Linked DNA regions of Homo sapiens. The protein of the gene in region 1 interacts with the protein of each later gene in a biochemical or structural test. Each region holds a gene or a part of one and is shown in the gene's direction. Other genes may lie near its edges. The genes, in order: NOP58, ANXA1, OGT and CSNK2A1.

Region 1 (5,579 bases):
CTCTTTGGGAGACCAGGAGTTTGAGACTAGCCTGAGCAACATAGCAAGAAATATGTCTCTCTCTGTGTTTTTTTGTTTGTTTTGTTTTTGTTTTGTTTTTTTTGAGGCAGATTCTCACTCTGTCGCCCAGACTGGAGTGCAGTGGCGTGATCTCTGCTCACTGCAGCCCCTGCCTCCCAGGCTCAAGTGATTTTCTTGCCTCAGCCTCCGAGTAGCTAGGATTACAAGCGTGCACCACTACTGCCCAACTAATTTTTGTATTTTTAGTAGAGACGGGCTTTCACCATGTTGGCCTGGCTGATCTTGAACTCCTGACCTCAAATGATCCATCCGCCTTGGCCTTCCAAAGTGCTGGGATTATAGGCATGAGCCACCACACCCGGCATTTTTTTTTTTTTTTTTTTTTTTTTGAGTCAGGGTCTCACTCTGTTGCTCAGGCTGGGGTGCAGTGGTGCGATCTTGGCTCACTGCAACCTGGACATCCTGGACTCAAACAATGCCACCTCAGCCTCCCAAGTAGCTGGGACTGCAAGTGTGCGCCACCATCCCTGGCTGATTTTTTAACTTTTTGTAGAGACGGGGTTTTGCCATGCTGCCCAGGCTGGAACTCCCAGGCTCAAGTGATCCACTTGCCTTAGCCTCCCAAAGTGCCGCGACTGCAGGGGTGAGCCACCATGCCCAGTCTTCTCCCTATTTTTAATTGCATGTTAACCCTATCATATTTCATTAGAAGTCCCTTAGAATAGGCATTATTGCTATGTTGTGATACATCTGTTCATGAAAAGCTTAATACTTTGGAATTGCACTACAGTTAACAGGGTTGTGAAGAAAATAATGGTAGGTAGTTGCTCAAAACCTGTGCAACTTTGTAATCAGTACTGTCAAATAGTAATCCTAATAAAATTATTACCACAGTTCAAAAGACATTTTAAGCTAATATTAAAAGAAACACTACAGGCTGGGCACGGTGGCTCACGCCTGTAATCCCAACACTTTGGGAGGCCAAGGCAGGCAGATCACAAGGTCAGGAGATCGAGACCACGGTGAAACCTCGTCTCTACTAAAAATACAAAAAATTAGCCGGGCACAGTGGCGGGCGCCTGTAGTCCCAGCTACTTGGGAGGCTGAGGCAGGAGAATGGCGTGAACCCGGGAGGCAGAGCTTGCAGTGAGTGGAGATCGCTCCACTGCAGTCCAGCCTGGGTGACAGAGTGAGACTCCATCTCAAAAAAAAAAAAAAAAAAGGGAGAAAGAAACACTATAGGCCAGGCGCAGTGGCTCACGCCTGTAATACATCCCAGCACTTTGCGAGGCTGAGGCAGGTGAATCATGAGGTCAGGAGATCGAGACCATCCTGGTTAACACAGTGAAACCCCGTCTCTACTAAAAATACAAAAAAATTAGCCAGGCATGGTGGCGGGCGCCTGTAGTCCCAGCTACTCGGGAGGCTGAGGCAGGAGAATGGCGTGAACCCGGGAGGTGGAGCTTGCAGTGAGTGGAGATTGCTCCACTGCACTCCAGCCTGGGTGACAGAGTAAGACTCCGTCTCAAAACAAAACAAAAAAGAAACACTACAATTTAAAAAGGTCTATTTTAAAATTAAAAGGTGGGCATAGATTGAAAGGGTTGAAGCTGCTAAGCTAGAGTTAAGAGCAAAAATGCACAAAGGTTAGGGAGAGCTTTGTAATAAGCATTTCTAAGAGAGAACAAATAGTGAAACTGAGTCAAAAATCCAAACCTGGGTAAATCTGCATTGTGTATAGCAGTGGTTCCCTATCAAGGGCAATCAGATGTCCCCCCAGTAGGCATTTGTCTATGTCCATAGACATTTTTGGTTGTCACAATTGGAGGTGGGTTGGGGTCTGCCATGAGTATCTGGTGGATAAAAGTTAGGGATACTGCTAAAGGTCCTATAATGCACAGGGCAGCCTGTACAACAAGGAATTAGGCCCAAAATATTAATTGTGCTGAGATGAAAAAACATTTTTATACAGACAATATTGTTACTCCACAGCTTTCTGTTTTCAGATGTTAAGAGTCCTGCAAAGTTCCTAACTGGTAGTATAAAGCTTAATATGTGCTATTAAAAATTGCATGAACCAATATGGCTTTTTTTTTTTTTTTTTTTTTGAGGCGGAGTCTTGCTTTGTTGCCCAGGCTGGAGTACAGTGGCACGTGATCTCGGCTCACTGCAACCTCTGCCTCCCCGGTTCAAGCGATTCTCCTGCCTCAGCCTCCAGAGTAGCTGAGATTCAGGCGTGCCCCACCATGCCTGGCTAATTTTTATATTTTTAGTAGAGACAGGGTTTCGCCATGTTGGCCAGGTTGGTCTCGAACTCCTAACAGGTGATCTGCCCACCTCGGCCTCCCAAAGTGCTAGGATTACAAGCGTGAGCCACCACGCCCAGTCCAATATGACTTTTGTATTACACAGCTTATCCTATTTGTCATTCATACATAAACTCATTCATGTTACAGAAATAAAGGTCGTAGCAGCACATATAGTTTTTTTTTTTAATGTGTATTTTCTGTTCTCGTATGGTGCATTTCTACTTAGCTGATTTTTCTTCTTAGAAAAACCAATTACAGCTCTGACTACAGGCTGATTTGAGTAAAAACAAAAACAAAAAAAAACTTTAAGGTGTTAATTTAAATGCTTTTCCTAGATGCTATCTTGCTAATTTATTTTCCCCTTTCTTCCCAGCCTGTCTCGATATAGATTGAAGTTTAGCGCTGATAAAGTAGACACAATGATTGTTCAGGCAATTTGTAAGTATAGTACATGCAAAGTCCGATTTGTTGCTCTGTCCTTCATGCGTTTTCATACTGTTGAAACTATCTTTTATGATTCTGTCTGTTGAGAAAGAGAAAGGAGGCCAGGTGTGGTGGCTCAAGCCTTTAATCCCAGCACTTGGGAGGCTGAGGCAGGCGGATCACCTGAGGTCAGGAGTTCAAGACCAGCTTGGCCAACATGACAAAACTCTGTCTTTACTAAAAATACAAAAAAAATTAAATGTGCATGGTGGCGTGTACCTATAATCCCAGCTACTCAGGAGGCTGAGGCAGGATAATTGCTTGAACCCAGGAGGCGGAGGTTGACTATTTGGAGATTATATGAATCACAGAATTAACATTACGTTAATTAATTCATTTGTATTTTTCCATGAAAATGTTAAAAACATAAGTGCAATCTTTGTAGTTGTGTATTCTGCTGTGTCATTAAATGGTTTTTAGAAAGCTCAAAAGCTGCCAGGCACAGTGGCTCATGCCTGTAATCCCAGCACTTTGAGAGGCTGAGGCGGGAGGATCACCTGAGGTCGGGAATTTGAGACCAGCCTGACCAACATGGAGAAATCCCGTCTCTACTAAAAATACAAAATTAACCAGGCATGGTGGTGCATGCCTGTAATCTCAGCTACTCGGGAGGCTGAGGCAGGAGAATCACTTGAACCCTGGAGGCAGAGGTTGTAGTGAGTTGATCGTGCCATTGCACTCCAGCCTGGGCAACAAGAGCAAATCTCCATCTCACTAAAAAAAAAAAAAAAAAATCAAAATCTTAATCGTTTTTCTATTTTAGAAATGCATTCGGCCGTGGCTCACGCCTGTAATCCCAACACTTTGGGAGGCAGAGGCTGGTGGATCACCTGAGGTCAGGAGTTCGAGATCAGGCCAACATGGTGAAACCCGATCTTTAGTAAAAAATAAAAAAATTATCTGAGCATGATGGTAGGCGCCTGTAATCTCAGCTATTCAGGAGGCTGAGGCAGGAGAATCACTTGAACCTGAGAGGCGGAGGTTGCAGTGGGCCGAGATCGCACCATTTCACTCTAGCTTGGACAACATGAGCAACACTCCGTCTCAAAAAAAAAAACAAAGTATTCGGCTGGGCGCAGTGGCTCACACCTGTAATCCTAGCACATTGGGAGGCCAAGGCGGGTGAATTGCCTGAGCTCGGGAGTTTGAGAGCAGCCTGGCTAACATGGCGAAACCCTGTCTTTACTAAAAATACAAAAAAGTAGCCAGTCGAGGTGGCGTGTGCCTATAGTCCCAGCCACTTAGGAGGCTGAGGAAGGAGAATCACTTGAACCCAGGAAGCAGAGGTTGCAGTGAGCTGAGATCGCACCACTGCACTCCATCCTGGGTGATGGAGTTAGACTCTGTCTCCAAAAAAAGAAAAAAAAAAGCGCTCAACCAGCGATTCCTTTCCTAGATTTATACCCAAAAGAATTAAAAACAGAACTGAGTTGCTTGTACACCTATGTTCATAACAGTGTTATTTACAAAACCAAACAGTGGAAACAACCCAGATACCTTTTAACAGATGAATGGATAAACTGCATTGTGGATGCAGCTTGAATGTCCCTAATCTGAAATTCAAAATGCTCTGAAATCTAAAACTTTTTGTGGTACCACACAAATCCACAAGTGGAAAACTCCACACCTGACCACACGTCAAAACTTTGTTTTATGCACAAAATTATTTAAAATATTGTGTAAAATTACCTTCAAGGTTTTGTATATAAGGTATATGTGAAATGTAGATGCATTTCCTATTTAGACTTCGAGTTCCATCCTCAGCCTCATACGTGTTTGCAAATACTCTGAAATACTTCTGGTCCCAAGCATTTTGGGTAACGTACACCCAGCCACTTCACACAGTGGAATGTTAGTCAGCCTTAAAAAGAAATGAAATTCTGATACATATTTCAACATGATAAACCTTGAAAATATGCTAAGTGAAATAGTCACAAAATACTGCATGATTCTGCTTATATGAAGTACCTAAAATAGGTGAACTCAGAGACAGAAGTATAAAGATAACTAGAGGTTGGGGGGAAGGTGGGAATGAGTTACTGTTTAATGGGTACAGAATTTTTCAGTTTCTGATGATAAAATTGCTCTGGCAATAGATCCTGGTAATGGTTGCATAACATCATAAGAATACTTAATGCTACTGAATAGTACACTTGAAAATGGTTGAAGTGTTATTTTTTATTCTTTTTTTTTTAAATTTTTTGCGACGGAATCTTGCTCTGTCACCCAGGCTGGAATGCAGTAGCACGATCTCGGCTCACTACAACCTCCACCTCCTGTGTTCAAGTGATTCTTCTGCCTCAGCCCTCCAGAGTAGCTGGGACTACAGGTGTGCACCACCATGCCTGGCTAATTTTTGTATTTTTAATAGAGATGGGGTTTCACCATGTTGGCCAGGCTGGTCTTGAACTTCTGACTTCGTGATATGCCTGTCTGCTGGGATTACAGACATGAGCCACCGTGCCCAGCCTGAAGTGTTAAATTTTATGTTGTGTATGTTTTACCACAATAAATCCCTTTAAGTTTTGTTTGTTTGTTTTTAATCTACTACAGCCTTGTTAGATGACTTGGATAAAGAACTAAACAACTACATTATGCGATGTAGAGAATGGTATGGCTGGCATTTCCCTGAATTAGGAAAAATTATTTCAGATAATTTAACATACTGCAAGTGTTTACAGAAAGTTGGTGAGTAATTTGTTCATCCTTTAAGGCATTGAAAGTAAATGAATTTGATTGCATCCTAAAACATGACGTATAGCATTT
Region 2 (5,579 bases), on another chromosome or scaffold:
TCTAATTGAGATTTTGGCATCAAGAACTAACAAAGAAATCAGAGACATTAACAGGGTCTACAGAGAGGGTAAGTTGTAATGTCCAACAGTCCAAACGCCTTATTTGAAAAGGAAATCTAATATACTTTCTTAAAATTGACTGTCTATGGTAATTATGGCAGCTTTGGAATCTCCACATATCAAAATGTTTCTTTATTGTTTGGCACATGTCTATTAAATGCTGTTACCAGGCAACGCTTGAGTTGCTAGGTTGCTGACAAGGGAGATGGTGTCCCAATCCGCATCAAGCTTGCGTTTTAATAGAAAATGTTCCTCTAGGATAAATGGCCACATACGATTATAATGGAAACCTCAATTCAGAGCATTGAATTTTTAAAAATTTCTGAAAAACACTTTTCTATTATTCTGGAATGTATTTTATAAAAATGTCCCAAGGTCATTTTTTTTGAAAAGAATATATAATAACAAAAAAATCTCCTAACAAAATGTTTTTCATTTGTCCTTGAAAAAGTAAAGAATTAGGTGCTTATAATTCTCTGTTGGAAACCTTAACTTTATCGTTATGAACATAAGAGACTCACTTTATCTCTAGTTAAATTCACAGAATAAAAGACTAGTCTTAGCTTATTTTATCTCTCCAGTGAAGCATCTCATTTAAATGATGTGCTCAACACTGAAAAGAGGGTAATTGCAAGTCTCTTACCATTTTCCTACTCTCATTTCCCTGAGCTGCTGGCTTTTTGGCTTTCCCAATGCAATATATGGCATATAGAAGATCTTTCTGCTTGATTCTCATACCAAGCATGGAGAATACAATAGCTTTTGCATATCATTTTCAGAGGAATTTAATAAAAGAATAAAAATAAGGAAGCTTTTAAACCTCATTTTCTGCAATTCTTATTTAATTACCAATGTTTATGTTAGATCCATGTGTCAGTGGTAATAATGATGATTATTTTTGTTTGATAAAACATAGTTTATAAAAATAAGTGTTTATATATTTTTCATATGGCCAAGATATAGGCCAGTGATAGTTTATTACATTGCCCAGTTTCAAGTTGTTTTAGTCCGTTTGTGTTGCTATAAAGAAATATCTGAGACCAAGTAATGTAAAAAGAAAGGAAATACTGTACAAGTAGTATGGGACCAGCGTCTGCTTTTGATGAGGGCCTCATACTACTTCTACTCATGGCAGAAAGCAGACAGAAGCAGATGTGTGCAGAGAGGGAGAGAGAGAAAAGGAGGTGCCAGGCTCTTTTCAACAGCCAGTTCTTAAAGAAACTATGAATGAGAACTCACTCCGAGCCATTCATGAGGGATCTGCCCCCATCATCCAAACATCTCCCAACAGGCCCCACCTTCAACAGTGGAGAATAAATTGCAACATGAGACTTGGCAGGGCCAAACAAACAATATGAAAACCATAGCACTAGTCAATTATAAATTCAATTATTTTTTCCTATTACAGTATTATTTTATGTAGTTAAGCAGAAGTGTTTACACACACATAAATCATCAAACTGCATTACTTATAAGACATTTATAGTTTTTAAACTAAATAAATAATTTGCATTCAAGCAAGTACCTCATTTTGTTCTTTTAAACAATTATTTTATTCATTCTATTGCTTAAATTCTGCCATGTTGTATTTCAGAATTAATTACTAATGTATACCTATACAATTTATTCTTAACGAAAGCTTTATGACTGTGAGTTTTCAATCACAGTATTATCTAAATTGCTCCCATTGCTTCATATGAAATAAATTCAATGATCCAAAAATTTACCTGCTTTAATTTTTCTCTTCTTATTTAAAAATGATAATATTTTGCAACATGTTCCATAAGTCATTGAACACTGTGGCACTGTGAATTTTCAACCAACTTAGAGATGTCAGATATTCTTATTATTATTCATCACTGGTTTACTATAAAATCTATTTTTCTTTTTTCTCAGAACTGAAGAGAGATCTGGCCAAAGACATAACCTCAGACACATCTGGAGATTTTCGGAACGCTTTGCTTTCTCTTGCTAAGGTACAACTCAGATACTTTAGGAAATGCCTCTTGTTTTATAAAGACTAATTTCTTAGTCCATTTTGTGTTGCTATAAGGGAATATCTGAGGCTAGGTAATTTTTAAAGATAAAAAGGTTTATTTGGCTCAGGATTCTGATGGCTAACAAATTCAAGTTTGGGTATCTATGTCTGGTGAGAGCCTCAGGCTGCTTCCACTCCTGACAGAAGAGGAAAGGGAGCTGGTGTGTGCAGAGACCACATGGCAAGAAAGGAAGCAAGAGAGAGAATGGGGAGGTGCCAGCCTCGTTAACAACCAGCTCTCGTGGTTCTCATGAGCAAGAACTCATTCCCAGTGACGGCATTAATCTCTTCATGAGAGATCAGCCCCAGGACCCAAATACCTCCCTCTAGGCCCCACCTTTAACACTGGGGATCAAATTTCAACATGAGGTTTGGAGGGGAAGAACATCTAAAACCATCGCAAGTAAAATCTTGTATCTGAGCTCCTTCTAGAAATGAGTAATAGAATACCTTTTTCTCAAAAAATATTATTTATCTGAGTTTAAGATAATTAAGTAAATCATGCAATTACATGCTAGAGAAGAGCTTACAATAGAATGGGATTTCTTTCAGGGTGACCGATCTGAGGACTTTGGTGTGAATGAAGACTTGGCTGATTCAGATGCCAGGGTAAGGAAGTGCTTACAAAATACTGCTGCAGTTCATCTTCCTACCTTAAGTGGGGCTACCACATGATCCCCTGTGAAAGCAAATCTAAGATCTTCTGAGAGACCAATGGCTTCTTAATGTTCATTTCCTGAATGAGGCATGTCTTTCTGTAGCCCCCACACACAAAAAAGTAGTCTTTGTAAGTTTTCAATATCTCTCATTATTCGTAAAACCAGAGAGAACTGAAGAAGGACAATACAAATTTGATTTGTCATTCCCAAGAATTGTTTGTTAAAAAAAACTCTGACCTTTCGTTGTACTAGGTATAAGAAGGGGAAATGTAATTTTTTTATTATGTGCAATGGAAAGAGTAAGCATATTTAACGTTATTTTTAACAGAGAACTTTGGAATGGTTTATAGATGTCAATTTATATTGTCAAAATATTACTGCAATGATATAACAAGAGTATAGGATAAATTATAATAATATATGCTTTCTAACATATTGTTTTATTTAGTTTCAGTGACATTGCTGATTATTTATATGCCAAACCACTGGCAACATAAGAAAAATCATATCATTTTAAAGCCTGGAATTTCCATTTAAAACAAACAAACAACTAATATTTGCATTATGCCTTCTCATGGAACAGTATTCTCTAGAGAATTCATTACAGTGCTTCACTAAGGATAGAGATTTCTTTGTGCACCCCCATCCACTTCTGCTATACCAGTACATTATCATGTACATAATAGGCACTCATGAACTTTTTGTTCAACAAATGCATACATATCAGATCAATTTGCTTGAAAAATGCAAAATAATTTTTACATACATTGAAGGTTTTATCATTTTAATAGAAATTGTTCAAGCATATTAAGGAACAAGAGTTAGCATTTGAATAATTGCCCATAATAAAAAATTCTTATTTGCTTTTGACATTTCTGAATTTGCTTTCCATTTTAAGACTATCAGGGTTCTTAATATATATTTATGGAGGTTACATGGATTAGTGTGACCCAAGAGAATGATGGTAGTCAACATTTCAAAGTTAATAAAGACCGCTTGTGACAATAGGGCAGGGATTATATTTTTCATATATAAAAGAAAAAAATCTGTCATTTAGTAAGGTTGATCTATTTGTCTAAGATTATGCAGCTTTGAAATTGCAGAGTCAGAATTTGAATACAGAAATTCTAACATCAAAATGCAAGGTCCAGGTTACGGTTGAATTATTGATTTATAAGTAACATTTGCTGATAATTACTTTGAACAACACAGAGTAAAAAATCTTTAGAGATCCCCTTGGAGTTGTCTTACTATAGAGCATAATCTTAAAGCAATTTAGTTCAGCAAACATTTATTCTGCAAACATATATTCAGACTCTAGTGTTTACAAGGCACCTTGAGAGAAACTGTGGAAGATATTTGACAAACAAAATAAGGTCCCTATCTTTAAAGAACTTGCAATCTTATTGTTGACTACTCTGATTGTATTGGGCACAAAGCGATTGCCTATATAATCTTTGACAAGGTCTAACATTATTGTGCAGATATCATTTCAGCAGATAGTGAAGTGTTTACTTTTGTGTTTCTTGACAGGCCTTGTATGAAGCAGGAGAAAGGAGAAAGGGGACAGACGTAAACGTGTTCAATACCATCCTTACCACCAGAAGCTATCCACAACTTCGCAGAGGTAACAATAAATTTCTTTTTCTGGAATCTGTTTATGGAAGATGCAATTTTCTTTTTTGATGACAAATAAGAGAAAGTAAAAACAGAACCCTTTTTCAATATCACTCCTGTATCAAACAGATACAGTGTTCCTGACCCATTGTTATTTGTCAATTTGTCCAATTTTGTACAGCCGCTACTTTATCATATTTAATACATTTTGTGACTTGGGCATGTGGAACATAATTTTGTTATTTTCACTGCTTTTACTCCCCTAAAAGATTTGGAATATGTGTGGGAAAAGACATGCATAACAGAACAAATGAAATTAGAATGAAGAAAAACAAAAAAAAAAAAACAAAAAACCCTCAGAGCTAAATGAAGAAAGAAATATGTAGGTGCTTTGGAAAAACAACAACAAGACAAAACTCAGAAAAAGTCCTGGCCTTTGAGTGCAAGATTTAGCTCTGGGCCTCTTGGAAGTGAAGGCGATGGAAAAGTTATGACAATTACCAAAGTTCACCATCTTATAATAGTATACTGATTTCTACTGTTAAATGTAAGAGAAATTTAGTGCACAGGTCTTTATATAAGGGAAGATCCATTTGCTGTGGCTCTTAGAACTGCTGTAGGAAGTGCTATAGTTGTCAATCACATGCCGTTTCTAATAACTGTCAACATTTGCAAACATTTCGCCAAAATATATAGGAATACCAAAATGGCCAGGTAAGTTACATTCCTAGGAGAGGATGAAGTATTCACGTTATGATTAATTGGGTATATTGCTTTAAAAGGTGTAGCCAAAGTTGTTATTCTAAAAAATTCTTTGAGTCAGTTGCCTTGATTTTGCTAAAGCTTTCTAAAGAAAAGGATGTTTTGCATGTATCTTAGTTTGAATTTAATATTCAGTGTTTCAGAAATACACCAAGTACAGTAAGCATGACATGAACAAAGTTCTGGACCTGGAGTTGAAAGGTGACATTGAGAAATGCCTCACAGCTATCGGTATGTAGTCCAGCAGTTGAAAGAGTTTTCTAACTAGAAATTGTATTTTCAAAGCTATCCTATACTTAACAAGAACAACAGCAACAAAACCAATAAAAGAAAACAAAAAACAATCAGAAGTAGTGCATCTGTTTCAATTGAAGCAACGTAAAAGATTGGCAAAGTACTATAACCTTAATAACAATAGATATTATTCCCCTTTTCAAAAATAG
Region 3 (5,579 bases), on another chromosome or scaffold:
TTAAAATAGCAGATAAGCGGCATTGAAAAGTGACAAAGTAATGTGTGAAAACAAGGAGCTAGGAAGTTCTAGAGACTTAGCTAAAATGTAATTTTAGTTTCTATTAAAGATATAACCTCTCCCAGATGTGGATGCAAGTCTCAATGCTCTTTGTGTTGGTGGTCAGCTGTGCATTCTGTCAGGAAATTTACTTTGCTTTCCTCAGTATCCGGAACGCTCATCAGCTCTGATGATTGGGGAGCTGGGCTCAAATTTGAACTAGTCACCTTAACCTTGGTAGAATTAAATAATTTGTCCATGGTTTCCCATTTCAACCAGCTAGTGAAGTGCTACGGTCGAATTCCCAGTTTAAGTATTTACAGTTGTGACAAGCAGTTTTTTTTTTTTTTTTTTCCCTCTCTGGGCTTTAGCTATATCCTTTAAAGATCTTTATGTATCTGGATTAAGTCACTTGCAGCGAAGTGCTTTTATTTATTCATTATGTTGCGCTTTATCAAATATATTTTAGCGTCCATCCTCCCTCCCTCCCAACGTTTTGACCATTGCAGTTGCAGGTAACTGCCTGGCTTATATAGGCTTGTTTGCAATGTCTTAATCCTTTAGTCAATACCAGAGCTGTTTGGAAAATGTTAGTGCTAAACCAACGTGGGTGGGATTTAGCCAATTTAGTCTCCTTTTGAGTTTGGGATGGTAGAGGAGCAGTGTAATCTTGGGTCTTTATTTAAAATGTTTGATGACCCCTTTAACTATTTTGGCTGTTGTCAAATGACAAACATCTTGTTTATCAGCTGTTTTAAAAATAGCACTTTGACTTTTTGGTTTTTCCCTTAGGCTCGTTTCTACTTGTCCTTTTAAAGAATTAAATTCTGAAATATACAAAAATTGATATAATTTAAAGAATTAACACATCTGGTGTCCTCACTGAGGTTAAGATTGATAGATTGTTACCAGTACTCCACCTCAACAAATCCAACCTGAAATATGGCACAAAATATTACGTTTCCCAATATGTTATTCTGATATTATTAAGTCTTTGTGACCTTGCAAATCACACGTTTAATATTTTGTTTCTGTATGTTAACTAAGGTATAAGGAATAATGTTCAGTGAATCCTTAGATGCTACCTATGATTTATAATTTAAAAGTACAAAGTATTTTTGGTCATAAAATGTAATCTCATATGGAAGTAAATATTCCTTTCTAGTTTGGGAAAGAAAGTATTAATGGGTGAATTCTAAAAATGCCAATTCTGCACTTGATGTTAACTTGAAGATATACATAACGTGCAGAACACTCTAGTGCTTTACATAGTTTCAAGCATTTCCATTTTTAAGTTAAATATACCATATTTTTACATTTTTTTGGTTTACATTTCTAACTTTTTGTTTTCCCCCCTCCTTCCCTCAAATGTTTTGATGATTCTCCAGAACCAACGAAACGTATGCTTTCCTTCCAAGGGTTAGCTGAGTTGGCACATCGAGAATATCAGGCAGGAGATTTTGAGGCAGCTGAGAGACACTGCATGCAGCTCTGGAGACAAGAGCCAGACAATACTGGTGTGCTTTTATTACTTTCATCTATACACTTCCAGTGTCGAAGGCTGGACAGGTAGGAGATGTTGGGGTACCTGCTCGTGATTGCTGCCTCTGGGTGCTGAGCTTGAAAAATGATACTTAAATATTTGAACTTGAAATTTTTCCAGTACCGGGTTTCAACTGAGCCGCCAACGCACATCTGCTCTCTTGCCCACTTGTGACATGCCCAGCTGCCAGTTTTTCTCCTTCCTTTTGTGGTGGTGGTTATATTATCAGTATGACTAGGGACCTTTTCTAGATTTTTCTATCTGGGTCTGCTGCTTTCTAGACTCTGTTCAGGTAATAAATTATTATCAATGTATATCTGAGCATCCAGTCTCCCTTTCATGAGACCTGTCAGTTTGAGGGACTGAAATGCTCAGAAATGATGGTTATGTATGCTGTGGCAGGAGATGCATACCTGGAGTTTCATTAAGTTGTTATGGTGTGTTGCTTTTAGTTAATCAGTTGAATTAATCAAAAGGGAAGAATTTGTGTTCCTGTCCTTTTAATAATTGTTATTCTGGCATATTTAGACACTTAAAGATGTGCATCATTAAATCTTAAATGGAAAATGAGACTCGTGCACATAGCTTTCCATTTTTTATCTTAATGATCATGATTTCCAATGTGGTGGGTTTTTTTTTTTTTTTTTTTTTTTGAGACGGAGTTTCGCTCTTGTTGCCTAGGCTGGAGTGCAGCGGCGCCATCTCGGCTCACTGCAACTCTGCCTCCTGGGTTCAAGCGATTCTTCTGCCTCAGCCTCCTGAGTAGCTGGGATTACAGGCATGTGCCACCACGCCCAGCTAATTTTTGTATTTTTAGTAGAAACGGGGTTTCTCCATGTTGGTCAGGCTGGTCTCAAACTCCCGACCTCAGGTGATCTGCTCGCATTGGCTTCCCAAAGTGCTGGGATTACAGACATCAGCCACCGCGCCCGGCCAATGTGGTAGTTTTGTAACAAGACTCTAGTTAGAATTTTTTTCTTTTTTTTGAGGTGGAGTTTTGCTCTTGTCACCCAGGCTGGAGTGCAGTGGCGCAATCTCAGCTCACTGCAACCTCCGCCTCCCGGGTTCAAGCGATTCTCCTGCCTCAGCCTCCTGAGTAGTTGAGATTACAGGCGCCTGCCATCATGCGTGGCTAAATTTTTGTATTTTTAGTGGAGACGGGGTTTCACCATATTGGCCAGGCTGGTCTCGAACACCTGACCTCAGGTGATCCTCCCGCCTCAGCCTCCCAAAGTGCTGGGATTACAGGCGTGAGCCACTGCGCCCAGCCAATAATTTTATTTAATAAGAAAAAGCTTTTCATTTTGAAATCTAGAATACCTCCACTTTTGAAAATCTTTGATTTCCCAAATTTTTCTTGCTATGCACTAGTTAAAAGATAAGGTATTATATAATGAGCAATAGCACAGATCTCAAACTGTTTGAGTTGCATATGGGCCATACCTTCTTTTCTGTAACGTGCATACCCATGCATTAACACTTGTCGCCTTTTCCAGATCTGCTCACTTTAGCACTCTGGCAATTAAACAGAACCCCCTTCTGGCAGAAGCTTATTCGAATTTGGGGAATGTGTACAAGGAAAGAGGGCAGTTGCAGGAGGCAATTGAGCATTATCGACATGCATTGCGTCTCAAACCTGATTTCATCGATGGTTATATTAACCTGGCAGCCGCCTTGGTAGCAGCGGGTGACATGGAAGGGGCAGTACAAGCTTACGTCTCTGCTCTTCAGTACAATCCTGTGAGTAAAATTTTAATGGTTACTTTCCCTTCCTAGAAACCCAGAAAGAAACATAGTGTGATATTTCAGACACTAAAGTAGGTTTTCACATGGAATAAAGTCAAAAGTTTAGAAATGCGTATGTACTTAAAATGGTGAAATTGCTTTTAGCTGGTCTGCGTTATGCTAAAATATTTGTTTTATTTAGCAAGTTATATTAAAAAGCATAAAAATTCTTATTGCAAGAAACTACATCAATTTTAAAATAACACGTATAAAGTACAGAGCACATGACTTTTTTCTGTTGTGATTAACTTTGGATAAATTCTGATAAGTGTTTGCAAGTTAATTGATTTTCAAGGAATGGTGGATAATGGGTCTTAATCTGTAAAATCTGTAATATAAAATAGTTTGAAACAAGATGCCACTATATGGAATGATGTGAAAATTAGGCTACAAAATTTCTTCCTCAATATCCTATTCTCTTCTCTTTCAATGTAATTAGAAGTCATAGAATTTAGATGATACTACTTATACTGGGCTTTTGATTAGTTTAAAAATTTTTTTTGTCTAAGTTGCAGATGTGTTCTGGGAACAAGTAAGGCTCAGCTGGCAGACCTTAAATTCATACTGTGTTTAGGATCTCCGAAAGATACAAAAACATAAGACTTTCCCTCAGAACTTATGATGTAGTTAGAGAAAGTAGATGTAAACTTAAGAGGTAAATGATAGTGGGGTTATAGAAATCTAGAAAAAGTTCCCAAGTTACATTGTCAACATTCAGTTTTGTAACCAACCTGGAAATGGCTAATAGTTTATTTTAGCTACCGTTTACTGAAAGTCTGTGTGGTCAGACACTCTACTGACAGCTTTAAATGATTGGTCTTAGTTAATCCTCACAATAATTCTTCAAAATAGATGATATTATTTCTGATTTTTATCAATTAAAAAAAAACCATGGACTCAGGGTTATGTGGCTTTCATGGGGACAAAGCTAGTAATGAAGTATTAATAGATATTAAAACCTGAGTCTGAATATCCTCAAAGCAAATGTTGAAGTGAAAAGAAATAAAAGTGGGATGATGTGCCCAGAGGGCACTCACCCATCAAAGCAGCCCTTGAGCACAGTTAAAAAACCATTGATCATATTTTGCTGTCCCTTATTTTTTGGTTAGGAAACTGAAACTAAATTTAGTAGTTTGTTCAAAGATCCGAAGTCACTTCTCATGATGATATCTATTAACAATTTTTGTAGTTAATTTTGAGAGTTTAAACGTGTCCTTTTTAGAAAATCCATTGCTTTAAAAAACATTTTTTTTTAAGAGATGGAGTCTTGCTATGTTGCCCAGGCTGTACTCATACTCCTGGGCTCAAGCAGTCCTCCTGCCTCAGCCTCCAGAGTAGCTGGGACTATAGGTGTGTGCCACCACACCCAGCTTCTAAATTTATTGGTTTTTGAATGGATACAGTGAATACCTCCAGTTAGCACTCTTGGAGGTAGCAAATGAAACTAATTTCTTGTCTATCTTTTCTGAGACACTCAGTGTATATATATGTACATTTGAGTGACTTTTTGTAAGTTTTATTGCAATACTAATCTAGCTAGTTACCCACATAAAGTTTTAGGGAGCCTGGTATGTACTGCCACTGGGCCTTGGACCCCATTTTTCCCAGGGCTCAGGGCTCACCTCTGTACCCAGTTGTCACAGTAAGTTCTTTACCTTTATTAATCAGGTTGATTCTACTCTTATTGATAGTGTACCCTCTTACACAGCTGTGGTTCTTGCCATCTTTAACTCTAATGCCCTTGGCTCAGGTTTCCAGTTGCCTATGTGTGTAGCAGAGCAGTCATTGCTACTGATAGTGTACCCAAGCAGTAGGACTATGCTGAGAAGGAAAACTAAAGTGAGAGATGGAACCTTGCTATTTAATATCTAACCTGCTGTTAGCAGGAAGCTTATTGTTGTACCCTACCAAGGAAGTGAGATAGTACTAAAATAAATCATGGGATTACCTCTTGAATGCATTGAATGGCCATGTGTTGTCATCTGGTTCTATGTTTCTTCTAGTGGAAGGTGCTGCTTTACTTATTTATTACTGTTTTTACCAATAAGAATGAAAATGGGATTGTGCAAGTTCCCTTGATTTCAACTAAACATGCCATAGTGATCATATTTTAATTTATTTCAGGATATCTAAAGTCTTAACTAGATTTAAACTTACTGTCAAATGCCCGTTGTCAGTTCAGTACTGGTAGAACCTTGCGTCTGTTCCTTAT
Region 4 (5,579 bases), on another chromosome or scaffold:
GATTGCTCATGGTTTATTCTTTTTCAGCTACGACTAATAGACTGGGGTTTGGCTGAGTTTTATCATCCTGGCCAAGAATATAATGTCCGAGTTGCTTCCCGATACTTCAAAGGTCCTGAGCTACTTGTAGACTATCAGGTAAGAACAGAAGGGCAGGCACAGTTTTGATCCTGTGTTTATTTCGCACATAATTTACCAAAAAAAAAAAAGTATCATTTTGTGCATTTAGGTAGGCCACTTAATGCACATTCACAGCTGTCCTTTTTATATGAAATGTAAAATATAAATCACCTTAATTCATGTACCATGACTTACATTACTTTTATTGTCATAATGTCGGTAGAATATGAATAGGTTTGCATTTGATCCTGACTTGAGGGAAAGTAGCCAAAGATATGTTCTATAATCAGCAGTTCCAGAACTGTTTTGAATTGTAAGCTGTTTTGTTTTTGTTTTTGTTTTTGTTTTGAGACGGAGTCTCACTCTGTCGCCCAGGCTGCAGTGCAGTGGCATGATCTCGGCTCACTGCAAGCTCCGCCTCCCAGGTTCACACCTTTCTCCTGCCTCAGCCTCCCAAGTAGCTGGGACTACAGGCACCCACCACCACCCCAGCTAATTTTTCTTGTATTTTTAGTAGAGACTGGGTTTCACTGTGTTAGCCAGGATGGTCTCGATCTCCTGCCCTCGTGAGCCACCACGCCCGGCCTTTTGTTTGTTTTCTGAGGCAGGGTTTTGCTCTGTTGCCCAGGCTGGAGTGCAATGCCATGATCATAGCTGACTGCAGCCCCGAACTTCTGGGCTCAAGTGATCCTTCCAGCTTAGCCTCCTGAGTAGCTGGGACTACAGGCGTGCACTACCACACCCAGCTAATTTTTAATTTTTTTGTGTGTAGAGAGAAAGTCTCACTATGTTGCCCAGGCTGATCTCAAACTCCTGGGCACAACCCATCCTCACACCTTGGCTCCCCAAAGTGCTGAGATTACAGGCATGAGCCACCATGCCCATCCTGTAACTAAGTTTAACCAATCTTCAGAGTAAATTCAAGAATGTTTTCTTGTTCTTCTGAATTGTATACTAAATAAAAAGGTCTTCTCCCCAGCTCCCCCAAAAAGCCTTCTTTCTCCTCACAGAAAAAGGAGAAAGGAACCAAATTAATAATAGATTTGCCAAGTGTTTAAAAATCTGAAGTTTTCTTGGGAGTATCTTTTATGCCCAGTCTTTCCAGGTTATTATCAGTTGATTTTAAAAGTTTCAGACTTTTTGTTCTTGTAGGAATTTCTTTCTTGGGGTCTTAAGGCTATAGCCCTGAGTTCAAAAAGCATTTTATGCATAAAAATAGTTTTTACAGTATTACTAATAATTGTGAAAAACAGAACACTGTCCTATTATAGGAAAATTAAAGATTGAATTCTGAAACATTTATGTAATAAAATACTAATGATACACATTAGATGGTCTCCATGGGCTAACAATTTGGAGGTTTTTTTTTTTTTTTTTTCATGTAAGTGAAGAAAACAATTCAAAATAGTATGTATATTAGCTGAGCATAGTGGTGTATGCCTGTAATCCTACCTACTCAGGAGGCCTAAGCCCAGGAGTTGGAGGCTGCAGTGAGCTATGATCACGCCACTACACTCCAGCCTGGGCAACAGAGCAAGACCCTGTGTCTTTAAAAAAAAAAAAAAAAGAGCCAGGCACAGTGGCTCACGCCTATAATCCCAGCACTTGGAAAGGCCAAGGCAAGTGGATCACAAGGTCAGGAGCTCAAGACCAGCCTGGCCAAGATGGTGAAACCCTGTCTCTACTAAAAATACAAAAAAATTAGCCAGGCGCGGTGGTGGGCGCTTGTAATCCCAGCTACTCAGGAGGCTGAGGCAGAGAATTGCTTGAACCTGGGAAGCTGAGTTGCAATGAGCCAAGATCACACCCCTGCAGCCTGGGCGACAGAGCAAGACTCTGTCTCAAAAAAAAAAAAAAAAAGTAAAAATTGTTTTAAAACCGAGTGAAAGATGCATAAAAGAAAAAACTAAAAAAAAAACTAAAAAAAAAAAAAAAAGAAAAAACTAGCCAGGCACGGTGGGTCATGCCTGTAATCCTAGCACTTTGGGAACCTGAGGCGAGCAGATCATGAGGTCAGGAGTTTGAGACCACTGGCCAACGTAGTGAAACCCCGTCTCTACTAAAAATACAAAATTAGCCAGGCATGGTGGCACGCGCCTGTAGTCCCAGCTAGTCAGGAGGCTGAGGCAGGAGAATTGCTTGAACCCGGGAGGCGGAGGTTGTGGTGAGCCAAGATTGCGCCACTGCACTCCAGCATGGGCAGCAGAGTGAGACTCTGTCTCCAAAAAAAAAAAAAAGAAAGACTAAAAAGAAATATATGAAGATGTTATTAGTGTTTTGATTTTGAGTCAGTGGAGTGATTTTTTTTTAATTTTAAAAATTAATTTTTTATTTTGAAGTGACAAGCCTGAGGATTCACAGATAATAACAGTGAGTTTACTTTTATGCAGATGTACGATTATAGTTTGGATATGTGGAGTTTGGGTTGTATGCTGGCAAGTATGATCTTTCGGAAGGAGCCATTTTTCCATGGACATGACAATTATGATCAGGTAATATATGTTATACCCATTGAAAAATGTACTGGCCTAATGCAATGATAGCCAGCACTGCCTGTAACTTTCAGTTCACTGTTTATTCAGCCACCCCGATATTGATCCTTAGATTGATGTTTCGGGAGCTACCAGCTTAGCCTTTTGAAATCAGACATTCCCCCCTAGTCTTTGTCATTTGCATTGCTTATTTTATTGTGAAGAATACATATAAATTGTCATCCAGATTTTTAAAATAGGACATTACCTTAGAATTCTCCTAATAAACCCTTATCTCCAATATGGTGTTTTCTCCAATATGTGAGCCCATATGTGGTATTTCTGTGATCCTTTTGGCTCTTTATATGGGTTGAGTTACAGATGTTTCTTAAACTAACTCCACTTCCCCCTTGAAGATCAAAGGGCTCTTTCATTCACAAGAACCTGGAATGATTCTAGGACCTTGTGGAAGGTACCATTGTCTTGTTCCCTTTGAGCACCATGTCCAATTTTAATGAGTCAAAGAATACAACCTGAATTCCATTAAAGTCAATAACTCTGTATCAAGTGCATGCAGTACTGAGGAATACAGAAAAAAGAAAGAATAGTTTTCTTCCCCTCAGATAGTTCATAGCTGATCTTGTAAGGGAGTCAAACATACAACAAAATAGGTTACAGTCATAACTTCAGAGTAGAAATGTGGACAAGGCACAAAAGGCAGTAGTGGTGAGTAGTTTGAGTGTGCAATGGGAGCTTCCCAAAAGAAGTGACATCTTCAATTGGGTTTTGAGGGGAGAAAAATAAGGGTTCACCAGGGTGACATTTCAAGAGGAAGAAACCAGTTTATAAAGTAGTTTGCTTTTTCTAACACTATCACATTGAGTTGAAGTCTAAACTGTTAGGAGGTAGCATTCATACCTGTAGACATGATGACCCGTTTATGTAAATTCAATCATTGTTAATTGTTGATTTGTTAATATAATATGCTTGTGATATGGGTTTTTGTCTTTCTTTAATACTAGTTGGTGAGGATAGCCAAGGTTCTGGGGACAGAAGATTTATATGACTATATTGACAAATACAACATTGAATTAGATCCACGTTTCAATGATATCTTGGGCAGGTAAGTCATGAAACAAAATATGTGCATCTGTGGCTTAAGCACTTTGAGAGTGAACTGGCACTTAGGATCTTCAAAATAGTTATGTTTTCTTTGCCAGCACTGTCAGGATGTCAGTGGTCCAGTGCCACAGGATGCTGCATTGAGCAGGCCTCTGATAAAGGCATTGGATTGAATGGCCCTTTATTCAAATTAACTTACAGGAGTCTGATGGAGGGGTTATAGCTAGAGGATTCCTACAAAATGAATGTAGATTCTAGTAGAAGGGTTACAGTTGAGGCAAAAATCAAAATTTACCTTGCTTCTTTAAGTGAAAAACCTCTCTCCAAGAGAAAGAAATTGAAGTAGAAAATGCATGCTTTAAGACTGATGTGCAGGCTGGGCACGGTGGCTCATATCTGTAATCCCAGAACTTTAGGAGGATCACTTGAGCCCAGGAGTTGGAGACCAGCCTGGACAACATAATGAGACCCTCGACTCCATGCATGGTGATGTGTGGCAGTAGTCCAGACTACTAGGAAGCTGAGGCAGGAGCTTCCCTTGAGCCCAGGAGGGAATGCTACAGAGAGCAATGAACATGTGGCTGCGCTCCAGTCTGGGCAACAGAGTGAGACCCTGTCTCCAAAAAAAAAAAAAAAAAGGCTATATGCAGACAACCGACTCTTAACAGTAGTGACTAGATATAGTACTTATACACTTAACCACTCAACAGGAGGAGATGGACTTTCCTGATGCAAAGGCTTTTGCTGGCCAATTGGCAGAGATGCCAGGAATATGTGTGGGGATGGGAAATAGGCCTGGTGAGCTCAGCCACCTGACCCTCCTTGCTACACAGAAGCGGTCACGTCCTGTCAAGTAACCTGAATTATGTTTCTTAAAATTGAGAGGACTCAGATGTCTTTTTTCACTCTAGCTATGTTGTTTCCAGTCTCCAGTTAGCTTTGTTGTCCCACTCAGTGGCAGAGCGGTGCAAGACTACCCTCTTGAGTTTGGATCCCTCTTTGCTTTTGTCTGGGCTGTTAGCCACTAAGAAAAATGTAGGAATGAAATGTTGGGCTTCTGTGCCCACGTGGCCCATTTCTCATGCCCTCTTTTGGTCCTGCAGACACTCTCGAAAGCGATGGGAACGCTTTGTCCACAGTGAAAATCAGCACCTTGTCAGCCCTGAGGCCTTGGATTTCCTGGACAAACTGCTGCGATATGACCACCAGTCACGGCTTACTGCAAGAGAGGCAATGGAGCACCCCTATTTCTGTGAGTCCAGATATCTAGCCCACAGAGTTTGTGCAGGCGCAGAGTCCTATAGAACAGAGTCGTAATCCCAGCTCCTGTCAGCTTGCTGCAAAGTTAATTCACCCACACTGAGCCTCAGATTCTTCCAGTGGGGATAGTGATGGCAACTACATTGCAGAATTACTGGAAGAATTCTTCTGTAACAGAATACATGACACAAGAGCATTCCTAAATAAACTCTTTTCATACTGTGAGGATGACACTTCTCAGTGCCTCAGTCTGGAATGGTTGAATTAGAATACACAGCCCTGTATCTTTCCTGTCCCTAGTAATCATTCGTTGGAAAGAGCTAATGAGGCTTACAAATCTTAAAATTGTATGAACACCTTGACTTAGATTTGTGAGTATAGCCACCTGTGCCATCCTAAGTGAAAATACCACTGAGACCCACCCCATCTGCACTGTGATGTTAGCTGCAACATGACATTTTTCCTTCGGTGTGATGGTTTTGTACTGAATCATTTATACTTTTGCCCAATACCTGAAGCAGATAGATAGGCTGATTGGGATAGAGAATGTGGTCATAGCCCTAAGCTACATGGACCTATAGCTTTGGCCTACTTGGTACTGGGCTG

What was found.
Region 2: the proteins of NOP58 (region 1) and ANXA1 interact in a test that uses a peptide from one of them, tested with the Homo sapiens proteins (one large-scale study listed by BioGRID).
Region 3: the proteins of NOP58 (region 1) and OGT form a complex in vitro, tested with the Homo sapiens proteins (one large-scale study listed by BioGRID).
Region 4: of the proteins of NOP58 (region 1) and CSNK2A1, one has a biochemical effect on the other in vitro, tested with the Homo sapiens proteins (2 studies listed by BioGRID and IntAct).

Annotation. Positions count from the first base shown.
Region 1 is NC_000002.12:202,284,957-202,290,535, forward strand, and holds part of NOP58 (nucleolar protein 58), read left to right. Parts: intron 1-2,703; coding exon 2,704-2,768; intron 2,769-5,366; coding exon 5,367-5,501; intron 5,502-5,579. UniProt on the Homo sapiens protein: Required for the biogenesis of box C/D snoRNAs such as U3, U8 and U14 snoRNAs. Part of the small subunit (SSU) processome, first precursor of the small eukaryotic ribosomal subunit.
Region 2 is NC_000009.12:73,160,826-73,166,404, forward strand, and holds part of ANXA1 (annexin A1), read left to right. Parts: coding exon 1-68; intron 69-1,956; coding exon 1,957-2,036; intron 2,037-2,650; coding exon 2,651-2,707; intron 2,708-4,290; coding exon 4,291-4,384; intron 4,385-5,271; coding exon 5,272-5,367; intron 5,368-5,579. UniProt on the Homo sapiens protein: Plays important roles in the innate immune response as effector of glucocorticoid-mediated responses and regulator of the inflammatory process. Has anti-inflammatory activity.
Region 3 is NC_000023.11:71,534,751-71,540,329, forward strand, and holds part of OGT (UDP-N-acetylglucosamine--peptide N-acetylglucosaminyltransferase 110 kDa subunit), read left to right. Parts: intron 1-1,427; coding exon 1,428-1,608; intron 1,609-3,078; coding exon 3,079-3,322; intron 3,323-5,579. UniProt on the Homo sapiens protein: Catalyzes the transfer of a single N-acetylglucosamine from UDP-GlcNAc to a serine or threonine residue in cytoplasmic and nuclear proteins resulting in their modification with a beta-linked N-acetylglucosamine (O-GlcNAc).
Region 4 is NC_000020.11:486,813-492,391, reverse strand, and holds part of CSNK2A1 (casein kinase II subunit alpha), read left to right. Parts: intron 1-27; coding exon 28-138; intron 139-2,510; coding exon 2,511-2,612; intron 2,613-3,613; coding exon 3,614-3,714; intron 3,715-4,816; coding exon 4,817-4,965; intron 4,966-5,579. UniProt on the Homo sapiens protein: Catalytic subunit of a constitutively active serine/threonine-protein kinase complex that phosphorylates a large number of substrates containing acidic residues C-terminal to the phosphorylated serine or threonine.